2 separate regions of the Homo sapiens genome follow, and region 1 is linked to region 2. Evidence: fine-mapped expression QTL. Tissue or cell type: blood mononuclear cells. Region 2 holds a variant in brackets; the other region holds the start of a gene. All regions are shown on one strand. Distances are from middle to middle.

The links. PIP is the estimated chance that this variant, and not a neighbour inherited with it, causes the effect.
Region 1: PLEKHA6 starts here. The variant in region 2 is fine-mapped to the expression of PLEKHA6 in blood mononuclear cells (TOPMed, PIP 0.97).

The regions. Positions count from the first base shown.
Region 1 is chr1:204,355,115-204,363,121 of GRCh38, reverse strand. PLEKHA6 (pleckstrin homology domain containing A6) reads left to right here and starts at 3,193. Exons shown (of 23, transcript NM_014935.5): 1 at 3,193-3,428. RefSeq lists enhancers at 1-317, 3,305-3,940, 4,056-4,982, 4,983-5,910.
Region 2 is chr1:204,282,028-204,290,034 of GRCh38, reverse strand. The region is part of intron 1 of PLEKHA6 (pleckstrin homology domain containing A6); the gene reads left to right. Among named protein-coding and RNA genes, the nearest start is that of GOLT1A, 72 kb to the right of the region's middle. RefSeq lists enhancers at 5,531-6,030, 6,031-6,532 and a silencer at 7,117-7,320. The variant C/A (reference allele first, on the strand shown) is at 3,030.

The DNA of each region.
Region 1 (8,007 bases), 73 kb before region 2:
TCTGTTGTCTCCAGAAGGCAGACAGGACAGAGCACAGGAGTGCTGGGGCAGCAGTTCTGGTACAGTGACCCCACTAGCTCTAGGCTTAGAAAGGCAGATAACACCCCAGAACAGTAAAGAAGGAGGCGGCCGAGGAGAAAAGGTAGTGAATGTGCTGGGCTTCAAAGAAGCCCATTTGCAGGTGAGGAAAACAGGCTGGATAGTCAAGTAATTTGTTCAGTCAGTGAGTTACTCAGGGATGGAGCTGGGCTTCCAAGTCACACAGGTTATCGTTAGCCAGGCATGGTGGCTCACACCTGTAAGTCCCAGCAACTCAGTAGGCTGAGGCAGGAGGATTGCTTGAGCCTGGGAGATGGAGACCAATCTGGGCAACATAGCAAGACTCTGTCTGTAAAACAAACTAAAAAATTAGCTGCATGTGGTGGTGTGTACCTGCAGTACCAGCTACTTGGGAGGCTGAGGAGGGAGGATTGCTAAAGCCCAGGTAGAGGTGGAGGCTGCAGTGAGCTAGTTCATCCCACGGAGCTCCCTTTGCTGCCCCTAGTTGGCATGTTCTGCGAGGAAGAGAGACCCATGTGGATGCAGTTCCACTGAATGGGCAGTGAGCCAGTCAAGTTAGTGGCCACCAAGACTGTATGGTAGGGAGTGGGGATGGCACCAGAAAGGTGGGGAGGACCCGTGTGTTTGGAGACCATGAGTAGGTGCCTGGGAAGCTTGGACTTGATCCTCTGAGCAATGGGGACCAGTGATTGTAGAGCAGAGGAGAGACGGGATCGCAGAGGTGCTTTCTGTGGAATCCTCCCTCCCTCACGCCACCTCACGCCTTCCCCATTGGAGTTGTTTAGGTGAGGCTTGCTTCTCCTCTTCTGGGCTCGCAGAGCAAGAACTTAGATTTGGCAAAGGGAATTTATTATCTCTGGTCCATCCGCCTCACCTGTCCTTGCTGTAGCTCTAAGATCTTCATGCTACCACATCTCTTCCGCCTTGGTCCCCCAGCTAAAGGCATGCACCCCACACCGACCCTCCCTTTGGCTTCTCATGCCCCTGAAGCTACTCAGATCCCCCAGAAACATTCACATGTCTGGCTCAGGCTTCTCGAAGGATCCGTGGGACTCGTCTGCGGCCCTTGCCCTCTGCCTGCCAGAGAGGAAACCCGCCCAGCAGGCCCATCTGTTGGTCGCCTGCCTTTTCCAGCTGCCTGAGGATTGTGGGGGCTTGGGCTGGGGTCTCTGTCCCCCTCCCCGGCCTCCCTCTGGGATGCTGTAATCTCTTGCCTCCACTCCTTTCCTCCACTGGCTCCGCAGGGTCAGAGACCCCCAAGAGCCCCTCATCTTGGCTGACTGAAAGCAGACTCTCCCCCTGCCTGCACCTGGCAGCCTTGCCAAGTCCTGGAGAGCCAGGGCAGGTGAGTTGGGCTTGATCGGTCCTGCCTGGCACTGGGCCCTCATCCACAACTTGTCTGCCCCTTCAGCAGAGCAGCTTTCCTATAGCCAATGCAGGGCTGGCCTGACATCTCAGCTGGGCAGGGGAACAGTGGGAGGTGACCAAGAGTCCCCCTCCCCAAGAGTGCTGCTGAGCTGCGCCTGCTGCCCTAACCCCAGATTCCTGGCTCCAGCCTGGCCTGCCCTGGGGTGGGAAAGACAGTCCCTTCAGTAGCTCTCTAGGTCCCTGTCTTCCTCCAATGCTGTGGTGTGTGTGAGTGGGGTGTGGAGCCACAGCCTTCACACCAACCAGCCAGGTTCCTCCCAGGCCCTGGGAGGGAAGTCTGTGCTCCTGTTCCTTCCGTTGCACATTCCTTTACAGATAAGGGCTTCAGTTGGTAAAAATGATATATGTACTCAGATCACACTAAGAGAGACCCACTTGTATTGGAGTCAAGAGGCTTAATTTTTTGATCAAGTTGTTCTAATAATAAACAAAAAATGCAATCACCAGGTGAGTGGGGCCTTGCAGACACCCTTTCTCTAGCTCCTGCTTCTTGACATATTTCTCTATTCAGAAGTGACTCCAGAAGCTCATCTGGTTCAGTCCCCAGTTTCCAGGTTTAAGGGGCAGATGGGACTGAGACCAGCGAGCCTGCCTGGAGGTTGAGGTGGGAATCTTTTGGTTTTTTCCATCTTTCTGATCCTGTTTATGAAATCAGTGTTTTTATTACACTTGCCCATTGTCACAGAGAATCCGTGGATAGAGGAAAACTGAGAGAGATGTGGATAAAGGGAAACTGAGGCAGAAAGCAATCTTTGTCTAAGCAGAAACAGAGCTACGACCCTATTGTCTGAAGTCCTTCCTTCTGCCTCTGATCCTGAATAATACAGAACCCAGGTACCCCGTAGCTTGGCTAGCATCCTTGCTCAGGGTTATCAAGACCGATTTGGGCAGGAGCTAGAGAAAGGGTTTCTGCAAGGCCCCACTCACCTGATAATTGCATTTTTTGTTTATTATTAGAACAACTTGATTAAAAAATTAAGCCTCTCGACTCCAATACAAGTGGGTCTGTCTTAGTGTGATCTGAGTACCTATATCATTTTTACCAACTGAAGCCCTTATCTGTAAAGGAATGTGCAACGGAAGGAACAGGAGCACAGACTTCCCTCCCAGGGCCTGGGAGGAGCCTGGCTGGTTGGTGTGGGGGCAGTGGCTCCACAACCCACTCACACCCCACTCATCCTGGCATCTCATAGTGGCCCCCAACCCTCTCCAAATGTTATTTCTCTAAATTCACCATATTGGGGGGGGGGCGGGGGATGGGGAGGCCCCAGGGCCCCAGCCAAGCCCTCTTGACACCTAGAGACGTGCCCCTCTCTGGAGTAGACAGCCACAGAGGTGAAAGGTGATCACCAGGCTGGCTGGGTGAGGCCCCACACATGATTCTAAGACCCTGGGCAGTTTCTGGCTCCCTGCAGTCTCTTGTGGGGGACTCTAAAAATGCAGCTTACCCAGACGGTGGCCCTGCTCCCCTTTGGGGGGCAGCCTTCTCCTGGTGGTGGAAGGCCCAGGAGGCTGTGCTGAGCCACCCCATCCTCTCCCGGGCAGGCAGGCTGCGTGGATGGTTAGCAGCTTGTCGCTGGTGTGGATGGAGTTAAACCTTTTCGGGGACTATTTACTCCTGATCCTAAGTGACAGCTTGGGGAGGGAGAGTCACGTGGCCCTGAAATCCCCGGGGGAGCCGATGGAGCATGCCCAGCTGCCTCTGCCTGGGAAAGATGCTGGATCCTGCAGTAACCACAACAGCATCCTCTCCCTGCGCCAGGGACCTGCCAGCCGGAGAGATGACTGATTAGATCAGATTAGATCCGGAGCCCCGCTCTGCAGAAGGGGGCCCCAGGGGCGGGGGAGGAGGACCCCAGCTGGCCTGAGCTGGGGGGAGGGGTGCCTTGGGGCTCGCAGAGTTAGAGCTTTCCAGCGCGGGGATCACACCTCAGAAGCCGGTGAGTCTGTTTTCATGCATCACATAGATGAGGTGGGAGGAGGAAGGCTGGGCTCTGGTCAGGGCTGGCAGCTGCCTGTCTGCCGCGTGAGCCTGGGCTGCTTGCACTGCGGAGCACTGGCTTCCCCATCTCTCATCCTTGGCAGCCTTACTTGGGGATCATGGATGCTGAGAATGCTAATTATAGCCCTCCCTGTGCCCCCACCCCCACCTCCAGAGTCCCCTGTCAGGGCTGATGCTGTTTAAATTGATTACATTTGAATTGCATCTCCTGGATGAAGGCAGCGTTGGGGCTGGCAGCTTCCTAGGGTCCAGCAGGGGTCCCCCACGCAAGCTAGCACAGAGAGGCCAGCCCACCCTCCCTTTAATCTTGCCAGCAGGAAGGAGAGAGGGAGGGGGTCCAGGGTCAGGCTCAGGTCAGCCCCAGGGACTCACCTTCCTCAGCGTGGGGAGGGGTCAGGGTGTGTATCATTCTTATGAGTCAGAGGTTGGGTCGAAGGGTGACAGAGGCTCTTGGATTCCAATTCCTAGGACGCATCTGAGCTCTGGGGGTCTCAGATTTAGTGGGGAGCTCTTGAAGGAGCTGGAGCCTGGTATGTGGTAGAGGAGGGCAGGGAATGAGGGGATGGCATTTATAATGATGGGACCAGGCTGCAGCCAGCTAAGAGCCTCGAGGTATTGTGTGAGGAGTCTGAGGAAAGGAGGACAGTTGGGGGACTGGCCAGAGAAGGGTAAGGAGGGCTACAGTGGAAGGGGAGGGAAGCGGGGCGAGACAGGAAAGTGGCGGGGGTGGGGGAGAAGGGAGAAGAAGGGAGAAGAGGCTCCTGGGAAATGCTCTTTGAGACAACAGGCCAGCCAGGGCAGGGAAGGGGGCTGTGGAGCCTGGGAGAGCAGAGATGGAGAACCGGGATAGAGGGAGAGCCATCCCCGGGGCACAGGGGTGGGGAGGGAGAGCTGCAGGAGGGTGGAAGGTGGTGGGGAGGAGGCTGGAGCTCAGAGCTGGTGTCAGAGGAGGTTGCAGCCTTCAGGGATTGGAGGCTCTTCCCAAAGCCCTGTAGACCCTTTACCCTCAATCTGATCACTTGAGTGGTGCACTCTGCTGAGGGTCTCCTGCATGGTGGGGCAGGGTCCTGGCTGGCAGGTATCTGCCTGAGCCCACTGTCTGGGCAGGTGCGGGGGCACTGCGGGCACTTGCCCTACAAATCTCCCAAATCCTGTTTTCCAGGCCACCCTGGAAGAGTATGAAACTGAGGAGGGCTCCTGTGGCTAGGACGGTTCAGTCGCCAGCTTTCACCCCCGAGCAGCTGCATTTTAGCTTCAGCAGGACATGAGCAGACCCTGCTGGTGGAGGGGAGGTGGGAGCGGCTAGGCTCTGGCCTGTCTCCAGGTTGGGGTGGCAGGAGGGGCTGAAGGCACCCCTCCTGGCACTGCCACTGGGCTTTCCTTATGGAAACAAGCGAGTTTCTGTGTCTTTGCACAAGGGCACAGAGTGCCGAGCCACAGATATGAATTATTAAAAGTCATTGGTTTTCCAATCAGCGGCGAGGTGATAAATGTGTTAGCACTGGTGTGTAATTAATCCTGGCAGGCTGCTGCACACAGGCTGCAGACAATGGGGGTCCCCACCTGCTTTTTTTTTGCTGGGCTAGGCTTCTTTTCCTCCTTCCTAGGAAGGTGATGGTGCAGGACGCCTTACACAGATAATTACTTTGAATGTGTCTGCCTGGATTATTGAGTTGGATTATTTCTGCTTGTAAATGAAATAATTACTGATCCCTCAGTCAGTGAGGGAGGCAGCCACCTTGGCTCCCGGGCTGACATCAGAGCCCCCACCTCGCCCAGACCCAGCCTGCAGCCTCGGGCTCATAGAGCGAGCTCTCTTGGCCCAGGGGACTGGCCTAGGCCAGAGTGAAGAAGCCGCAACAGCAGATGGGAGCGTGGTGTCAACTGGTGCTGAACAGGCTGCGGTTCCGTTCTCCGAGCCAATTTCCTCATCGTCTTCCTCACTGCCTGTTGTGAATTTGATGAGGTCATTGGCACTGGTCTTGGCGCACCCATGGGGCCCCCCAGAGGAAGGTTGGAGCTGTGCCTCACAAAAGAGCTGCAGGATTCGCACTCCCCTGAGCTCTGGGGTGAGGCGAACGGGCTCAGGAAGCCAGGGCTTAATGAGGGGACTTGAGCAGGCCAGTCTCCAAACACTTAAAGCACATTCAGAGAGGAAAAAAAGACTATATTTTGGGAGACATTTAGAGTAACTGGGAGCAGAAGGAAAAGAAGTTGAGGGTAGGCTGAGTGGAAGCCTTCCCTTGACCATCTGTCTGTTCAGGGGGCTCCTGCTCAGCACCTACAACCTTCAGACGCCCCTCAGAGACTATCTAGTCCAGACTCCCTCCACATCCAGATGAGCCTTCCTCAGCCTCCCTGACAGAAGCAGCAGCCTCACTTGGATAATTTCAGTGACAGGGAGCTCATTACCTCACAAGGCAGCTTCCTCTGTGGCTGGAACATTCTTCTATGTTGAATCAAAATCTGCCGACTTCTAAGTTCCACCCTCTGGTTCTGATTCTTTGAAGCTGTGCAGAACAAGTCACCTCTCTCTTTTACGTGGTCATAAAAATAGTTTTCTTTTGATTAAAATAGTATATAATAGTCCGTGTGTGGATGTAATATATTTTACATGATCATTTCTATATTGGACATTTAGGTTGTTACCTTATTTTCCTTTTACAGATAGCACAAGAGGAACATTTTTGTTCATAAGGCTCTTTCTGTGTTTTGGGTGACTTAGGATAAATTCCAAGGCATAGAATTAATGTGATGAAGGGTGTACATTAAAAGAATTACTATTCTGTGAGTGTAAAAGTAATACATTGTCATTTAAAAATGTAGAAAAACCTAAAGCAAAGTTAAGAATTACCCATAGGTTTGATATATAATTTTAATTTTGGTATACTTGTACTTTTATGAATTCATGCATGAGTGTATGTCTAGATTATCACAATACATATATATCATTAAAATTTTGGCCCAGATGTGTATTATTGTCACTTAAACAGAAAGCATTTTTTCATATTATTAAATATTCTTTAACAGCATTATTATTATTATTAATATTATTATTATTATTTGAGACAGGGCCTTGTTCTGTTGTCCAGGCTGGAGTGCTGTGGTACAATCTCTGCTCACTGCAGTCTCAACCTCCTAGGCTCAAGCGATCCTCCTACCTCAGCCTCCCAAGTGGCTGGGTCTACAGGTGCATGTCACCATACCTGGCTAATTTTATGTATTTTTGATAGAGTTGGCCACGTTGGCCAGGCTGGTCTTGAACTCCTGTGCTCAAGTGATCCACCCACGTCGGCCTCCCAAAGTGCTGGGATTACAGGCGTGAACCACCACACCTGGCCTTTACAGCATCATTTTAAAGTGGCTGTCTCATATTTCATTATATACCTTTTCAATTTATTTGTTGATTTGGCCCCTATGTTAAACTAGGTATTTCCAATTTTCTACTTTTATAAACAAGGCTACAATGAACATATAAATATCTGAATCTTCACACATATCAATACTTTTTTCCCTTAGGTTGCATTTCTAGAAGTGAAATGGCTACATTATTAAAATATTTTGCCAAATACCTCGTTCAAAAGCACTAATTTACATTCCTCGCAGCTGTGTCTGAGAATGGATTTTTTTTGTGTGTGTGTGTGTGTGTGTGTGTGTGCCATGAGCATCAACATTGAGTATTACAACTTTTTCATGGTTTTCATTTATTGCTTCGATCCATCTGTTTGACTGGGAGTGAGACAATTTTTAAAAAGAGACTTATCAAATGTGACATTGTCCATATTAATAACAATGCAATATATAATATGTCCATGTAATAAACATATTTGTGTGTTCGAGTCTTTGGCTTTTCTTAAAAGGCAGTGTGTGCAGAGTCATTAAGATCACAGTTGGCCAGGAATAGTGGCTCATGCCTGTAATCCCAGCACTTTGGGAGGCCGAAGCGGGTGGATTACTTGAAGCCAGAAGTTTGAGACCAGCCTGGTCAACATGGTGAAACCCCATCTCTGTTAAAAATATAAAAATTAGCTAAGTGTGGTGCTGGCTTCCTGTAATCCCACGTACCTGGGAGGCTGAGGCAGGAGAATCCATTGAACCCAGGAGGCGGAGGTTGCAGTGAGCCGAGATCGTGCCACTGTACTCCAGCCTGGGTGACAGAACAAGACTCTGTCTCAAAACAAACAAACAAACAAACAAAACGTAGTTATGGGGTCAAACTCAGGTTGAATCTGGAATCTACCATTTACCAGTGATATGATGCTAACAGTGGCTTTACTTCTCTGTGCCTCAGTTTCTCCATTTGTAAAATGAAGATAATGCTACCTATCTCATAAGCTTCTTGTGAAGATAAATGAGGTTACATATGCAAGCACATAGAATCCTGCTGAGCAGAATAAGTGATAAATGTGTTTGTTATTATTACCTTGTTGATTTGCATGAGAAACATAGATATCTGAAGACAGGTATAATCGTCTCTCTCCCTCCAAGCCCTCCCAAGTCTCCTTGTTCAAGACTAA
Region 2 (8,007 bases):
CACTTCTTTCAGCAATGTTTTATAGTTTTCAGTGTATAGGTCTTGCACATCCCTTGTCAAAAGTATCCCTTAATTTTATGCTATTATAAATGGTGTTTTAAAATTTCCTTTTTTCATTGTTTGTTGCCAGTATATAGAAATACAACTGATTTTTCTATATAGACTTTGTATCCTGAGCCTCTCCTCCCTTGCTTTGAAAATTGAATTTAAAAGAGCAGGAACCTGAAAATATCAAGGGGCAGGGCATTTGCATGACATGATAAACATTTACAATGGCTCTAAAAGCATGAGCATCTTTCTGTTCTAAGTCATAGATCATTTCAGTAGCAGCTCTACAGTAGCTGTGACTGTAAAGGATGGGAAGGAAGGGTGGTATAGTAAATTCTGACCCTACACAAGTAGAACACCTCCAGATCTCTGGGGTACTCTTGAGGGTGAATGGAGCAAGTGGGAATGCAGTGCAGCCCCTTTAAGGAACCCGGCCAGCCAGCCACCCCGCGGGCTGCTAGGAAGGCAGCCCAGGAGATAAGATAAGGCCCCCTGGCAGGTTTAAAGCAGGGTCCTGAGCCACAGTGGCTGGGCTACTGATAGGCAAACAGGAACCAGGGGTGATAAGGAGGAGGTGCCAGCTACTAAATCCGGGCTGGCAAGAGGAGGAGTAGCCAAATCACTCCTCTGGGGCCTGAAAGGAGAAGGGGCTATTAATTGTGGGTGTGTAGGGAGAGGGAACTTGTATTCTCTGTATATCCCATTTATGATCATGGTAAAAAAGAAAAATCCTACTGGGCTGTACTTAAAGGCACTCTGTTTCATATGGAGTAAATGCTCAATAAATATAGGCTTATTGAGTTCCTTATGCTCTAGTGAGATGCTCTGATATGGGGTTTAGAGACTACCTAATTTCTTCCTCAAATGAGGAAAATCCTGGCAAGGACTTACTCTCACAAGCCCGGCGCTGCTCATTTGCACACATCTGCATAGATTTGCATGTGTCCTGCTTGTAGATACTTTTAGATTTCCCCCAAATCAGTTGCCTATTTTTAAAGGATAAAGAGGGAATTTATCTCTTCTTGTTCTTGCTCACCTTCCGTCTGTATCCTCCAAAGACACTAAAATAATTTCTGCAACTTTGAACTATAAACAATAACTGTGGTTGCATAGTTTATGCAGATATGAAGCAGTTCCTTGACTGACAATGTGTTTCTCCTCTTAATCTCTATTACAATTCCTAGTGCTGCTCTCCAAACTTCTGAGTGGCGCAGAGAGACATTAAGGTAAAAAAATAAAAATAAAAACAAACCCTCTAGCTGAACAGCCAGGCTCAAATTGCTTAGAAAGCTTCAAGAATTAGTTCACTCTACCTGGACAGAGCAGTTAGAGGCAGTTCCATGGATCTGAAGACCACCTTCCCACTGCTTCCCATCCCAGGGCTAGGGATGCTGTGACTATCTTTGTCTGCTCTCCTTCCTCCAGGAATAAATAACAATATCATCCCTCCCCCAGATCCCAGTTCCTCTATTGGCCCGCCAGGCAAATATTTCATAATGTGGGCTCATCCAATTGGGCATCGTGCCAGAGCCAAACGCCTCAGGTTGCAAGTGTGCTCCAATCAGGCGGGGCGGCCTGGGTGGGACTAGAGGGCTCTCCTTCTCCACATGGGAGGCGGCAGCATTACTCAGGTGGATGGCATCAAGGTGGGAGTTGCTACTTTCTCAGGGCAGAGTAGAAGGGACAGGGCTGTCCATCAGCCAGCTCCGGCTGGCTGAGGCAACCCAGCACTGAAGGGGTTAAGGCCAGCCAGCATGTGTGGCTGTTAATGATTGCTACCCACCAGGGACCTGGTGAGTATTAAAGGAAAACCTTCTCCCTACTCCTCAGTGTGAAAGGAGTCAGGGCTAGAGGCAGCAGAGGGAACAGCAAAGAAGAGCCGGTGAGTAAGTGGTTATCTGTCTGGTCTATGTTTGTCTGGGTGGCTCTGGAACAGAAAAGGAAGCCTAGATATACCCATTCTATCAGCCAGAGTGGGCTTTTGTTACAACCAGATACAAATTCTCAGCTTGAGGCCAGATTCCAGTATCATTACTATTTATTAGAAGGAAATCTTTAAAATTATCTTAGTCCAAGGGAGTGAACTGCTCAGCGCAGAAGCCAGAGATACAAACCATTGTCTGTCCTGATGTCAAGACAATGGTTTTGTGTGGCCACCCTGAGCACAAAGCTGGAGCTGCTAGTCTTCCTCCTTCTCTCTGAGCCATTGTCTCCAGAGAGGCGCTCGGTAGCTCTGGTCAGAAGCAGCGTCGGCCTCTCTTGTGGGCCGATTTCCTGGATGGGGCCACGGGAGGAAGGTGGAGGGGACAGAGCCACAGGAGACTGGCATGGCTGTGCTCCTGGTTTTATCCTTTTACTTAGCAGAGTCAGGTGTGGTGAGATGTAGGGTAAGACAGAACCTGGCGGGGGTGGGTGCAGAGAGTTGCGGGGAGAACTCTTCACTCATTAAGAAGACAAGGTTGTCAGTTGAGAACAAAACTGAAATCCAGGGAGAAAGAGAACCAACCTTTTGCATTTAGATTTCTGTTGCCCCCATTCCCTCAACTTCCCCTTCAGGTCCCTCATCCCTTCAACCTCCAAAACATTTGTGCTCTTTGACCCTGGCACCTTCTAATGACAGTTTTGTGGAGGGGGTGTGGACAAGAATTCCTTGGCTTGGAGGAGGAGGTGGACGCACTGGCTTTTCTCAGCTGATGCTATCTCTCTGTGTGTGTACTCATGAATGCCCACGTGATTTAAAAAAAAAAAAAAAGAGGGAGACTGTCACCAAAAAGGAAGTGCTTACTTTACTCTCCTCCCGCCCCCAGCTAGGAGCCCTTTTGTTCCCTTGCCTCTTTCTTGGGAGGAAAGAGATTCGATGACATAGTGATGCTAGGTTGAACCTAGGGAGGAACTCGGGGCTCTGGAGAGCCTATTAGGTGGGAACAGGGTGCTCCCTGTGCCAGTTTAGAAAGCAGATTCGAGCGATAAGGTAAACCCAA[C/A]CCCCTTGTGGCTTTCAGCTGTGGTGCTTCCTCTGGCTGGGCTGCCCATGGGCAAACAGAAACCAGGCACAATAGGGGGAAGGTGCCAGCCACTAGACCCAGCAGGGCGAGAGCAGAAGCAGCCAAGTTTCTGGGCATTTGAGGCCAAGAAAGAAGGGGAAGTAGAGTATAGGAGAGGAACGGGGATACTTGTTGTGTTCTGCCTCATATTGAGAGTCAGCCACAAATGTGACTAGCCAACCTCCATCCCTACACTCCCAGGAGAAGTATACTGGGATTGTTATTTCCAGGCAGGGCAGGGGGGCTTCATGGGGGATGCAAACTGTGCAGTTGCCCCACATGCTTGGTTTAATGCTCTGCTATTGCTGTCTTGAAATCCTTAAGTTTTGCACAAGGGGCCCGCAAATTGTGCAGCTGGTCTTATTTCCTGGCCCAGCCAGAAGTTGCAGGTGCAGAATAGTTGCTCATATACTCCAACAGGTGTAGGCAGGCTCACCTGTTACTCAGGTGTCACTTATGGAGGCCGGCTTCTGTCCCGGCTGGCACCTGTGCTGCATCCCTTTCCCTTTCCTCCTCTCTGTTCCCCTCCCAGAGTACTCTATTCCTCCTTGTCACAGCCTCCATGCCCAGTCTTTCTTCACGGCTGCTGCGTGGCAGGACAGGGGTGGGAACAGCAGTGTCCCTTGTCTGACTGCCTCCCTGCCTTCCTTCTCAGGCCCTCTCTTTTCCTTATCTGGGCTATAGCCAGCAGGTTCTCTAGGCTAGGTCTAGGCCTAGGAGCACCTCTTCCGTTCCTCTGAGATTGTCTTCCCTCCCCTCTGTAAGCCCCGGTTATCAGTGGATGCTCTCTGGCACCTGCTTCTTGTGATGTCTGCTTAGCAACAGGTTGTTTACCTGTGATTTCCATAGGATCCAGGTCTGGATGAGTGCTGGGTGGGGAAGGGGAGGTGCAGGGAAGGAAGAATCCTAAGCCTGCTGTCCTTGGTGGTACTTCCTCTACCCTGTCCTCCTCCATGCCAGCTTCTCCTGCTCTGGACCAAATGGCCCCACAGAAGACCTCCCTTTCCTCCTCCTCCCCCAAGCGTCAGCTAGAGGTTGGCCAATCCAGGAAGGAAAAGGAAAGCAGGAGGGAGGAACAGGTCCTCTGTGTCTCCAGCCTCCTCCCCAACTCTTCTTCCTTCTCCAACTCTTCTCTCCCAGCCTCCTTAAGCTGCTGGATGACCTTTTCCAGTGTTTCCTACCAGGCCAGTGCTGTTAGTAATGATACTTTCAAACTGTGCAGAGGAGTCTTAATGCATGTGATTTAAAAATAATGAGCCTGGCCAACACGGCGAGACCGTGTCTCTACTAAAAATACAACAAATTAGCCAAGCGTGGTGGCCCGTGCCTGACGTTCCAGCTACTGGGGAGGCTGAGGTGGGAGAATTGCTTGAGCTCAGGGAGCGGAGCCTGCGGTGAGCCAAAATCGCACTACTGAACTCCAGCCTGGGATACAGAACAAGAACGTGTCTCAAAAAAAACAAAAACAAAAACAACCAAAAAAAAACCAACAACAACAACAAAAACAACAAAAAACCCAAAAAAACGAAAACAATGGATTGTCCAGATTAATTCTGAGTGAACTTTGGAGTATATCATTTCTGATTTTTAACTTTTTGTTGTTGACAGCAGATTTTCCTTTCTTTTTAGCTTAGTTTAGGTCTATGAGGGAACTTGTATTTACTGAAGACACTGAGCTCATCAGCTGGTGGAAGGATACACTGGCTTAGAATTGCATTTCATAGAATTCAAAACTATTAGAACTGGAAGGTGGCTTAGAGAACATCTAGCCTAGTGCTGTCCAATAGAATGTTCTACAATGATGGAATGTCCTGTGACTATTCTGTCCCGTATGGTAACCACTAGCTACTGTGGCTCTTGAGACACAGTGAAATGTGGCTAGTGTAACTAGGAACTGAAATTTTAATTTTATTTAATTTTAATTATTCAAGATAGAATACGGCTAGTGGCTATCAACTTGGTGCAAATTTAGGATAGTGCTATTTATTGTATTCCCTTATTTTATTAATGATTATAACATTAGCCACTACTAAACAACTCAATGTGCCAGGCATTCTTCTAGAGGTTTTAAATATTTAGTCCTCCCAGCAACTCCAGTATCGTTACATGTTGCAGGTGGGGAAACTGAGACCCAGAAAGGGACAGTGACTCAGTAGTGGTCAGTTACCAAGACTCCTGACTCTGAGACCACCGGCCTTACCCTTTTCCTTAAGGACAATCCACACGCTGTCCATTCCTTGCCATCATGTGCCAGCTTTTTTCACAACTCTCCAGTCCCTTTCCAGATCTCCCTCTTCCTCTCGGGGGCGTCAGGGGAGCTCACAAAGGATCGTCTCAGTCTGCAGCAAGTGCTCTCCTAGGCACAGTCATTTTCTGGCTGGTTCCTTGGGTGGCCCTTGTTCCTAGGCTCCCTTTGGATCCCCCACCAGCAGGCAGCAGTGCAGGGATATCGCTTTGCCCTCAGAGTCCTTGGCAAGCTCCCCAAGTACAGGGGAAGTTCCAGATTCCTTGCTCCTGGCAAAAGGAGGTGTTCATAATTTCCCACAATCCACCTGGCTCCAGCTTACCCTATTACTCCCAGTCTGAGAGAGAACATCAGCTGAGCCCTCCTTGGGGGCCGGAGGCAGAATGGGTCTCCCTGGGCAGGTGAGGAGCAGCACTACATTAGAGCCTGCTGTTGCCCCTCAACCCTTGCTGTGCTACCCTCCAGCCAGGAGGCTCCTGCTCTCCAGCTCTGGCTGGTTTACTGCTTTCCTCTTCCCAGGGCAAAGCTTCTGCTTTGTAGACTCTTATCAGAGTCTGGCTGGCCAGTAGGGAGGGGAGGGACAGGAGGGGGCATGAAGCAGATGCACTGTGCACACTGATCCCGGCGAGAGGGATTTGAGGCTGAGCTCCTGTCTCCTTCAGCCGCTATTCAGCATCCCAACTGGAACAGCACGTGCCCCCTCCTCCAGGCAGTGGTGAGCCTGCTGGCCTGCCCTACAGCTGCTCCATCAAACTCAAACAGTTATTCAGTTCCCCTGTGTGTGAGGTGCTGGGCAGGGGCACAGCAATAAAGGCCAGGCTGTGGACAGTGTTTGTGTGGCTGCCCTTCCATGCCCCTACATCCAGGCAGCTGTTGTCAGACTAAAGTTTGTGGGTAGCCCCCAGCCCACATCACACACAGTCCCCAGACCTGTAGCCCACAGATATTACCAGTGAAAGAGTTTGTGGCTTTCATTACTGTGTTCTTGGAGCAGACCTTGAAAAGCTGGCATCTCCCCCTGAACCATGAAGCTCTCTCCTGCTTTCCTAGGGGCAGGGAGCTCAGATTGGGTGCATCGCAGGAACAGAAAGAAGGGAGCCCAAGACTCAAATTTTTCTGACCTCTCCTGTCACTATAGCTGGGACAATGCACCTCAGCTTCCCTGATTCTAAAATGGGCCTTCCTTGCCTCCCTCCCAGTGTAAGGACCAGAGATTGCATGCGTTTTATTTTTCTCTTCATTCCACATGCCTTCAGAGCATCATAACCTTTCTTCCTCTGCTCTCTGGTCCAGTGGGAGATTTGTGTTGTCTGCTCAACAAGGCATCACTCAATACCATTGTTTTACTGTTAAAATGAGAAAACTAAGATACCAGACAGCTTGATTCTCAAATTGCTGGATTGGGAACCAAGAAGGCACTGGTAGCTTTTGAGGATGGGGAAGGAGAGAGATCAGCCAGCTTCATAACTCTCCAAACACCCACTTTGTAAAATTCCTTTCGTTGGGTGGGGCAGGGTGGGGTCGCTGCTCTCCGTAGGACACCAGAAGCAGATCTGCTGAGTTAGGGATGCAGAGACATGGTTTCAATGACCTTCCATAGACCCGGCGGCGGACAGCTGGGCTGCCTCAGCCACTGAAGGGCAGGGGTTTGAGATTCAACTCAGAGCTGGAAGGCGGCGGGGCGGTGGGGGGGCATAATTAATTATTGCCCTGCCCTGTTACCCCTTGGGATCCGTTCCACATTGCTGGCTGTCAGGAGAAGGCAACTTGGAGGCGAGGGGGCTGGGGCCTTTTTTCTCTGCTTCTGTCTGGCTTAGCTACTGAGGAAAGGCTGAGAGGAGGAAAACCCAGAGCTGTAGGCAGCTGGTTCTCCTTTGAATTCCCCCTCTCTTTAGAAGGGAACAAGAGCACACAGCACAAGGAGGAGCTCCAGGGAGCTGGATTGCCCCAGTTCTCCAATTTGGGTCAGGGTGAAGGAGAAAGTGTCTCCCAGCCTGCCCATGGCAGCTTCTGGGTGGTAGAATCGCAGTTCCCCACAATTGGAAGACACTTCAGTGTTGAGACAGTTAAGGACTGGCTGTACCCGGGAATGATATTCAATAATTCATCAACCAGAAAGGATGCTGGCCTGGAGTCTTGGAGGGCCCTGTGGTGCCAGGCATTAACTCTTTTGTCTCTGGGTCATGGAGATGTGAGGAGGTCTCAGACCCTGGCCCAGAGATGGGGCAGGGACACTCGAGGGACTTGGGGGAGCAGCTTTTCACCCACCAACATGGAAGAGCTTCAGTATTTGAATCACTGGCAGAGTTATGCTATCTACTCTGGTTGTCTTCATTTTTCAGCAGACAGATGGAATTCCCTAAAGTAAAACAACCAGTTTAAAGATGAACCAAGCTAGGGTGGGAGGTCAGGATGAAGTTCCCCTGTATAGTATCCATGTTTTCTCTCATGCACACACACGTGCGTGCACACACATGAGCTTGAACCCGTTACCCTGACTGAAGTACACCTTGTCCTCCTGCCCTCAGTCTGCCATCTTAGGCCTTCCTATCTCCTCTCATAGGAATAAGGGACCACCCAGGCCCAGAGCAGGGGCTGGGAGACACTACAGTGAGAAAATGGGGGAAGGACAGCACCTGAGCTGGAAGGGAAGAAACCTGGACCTGGCCCCCT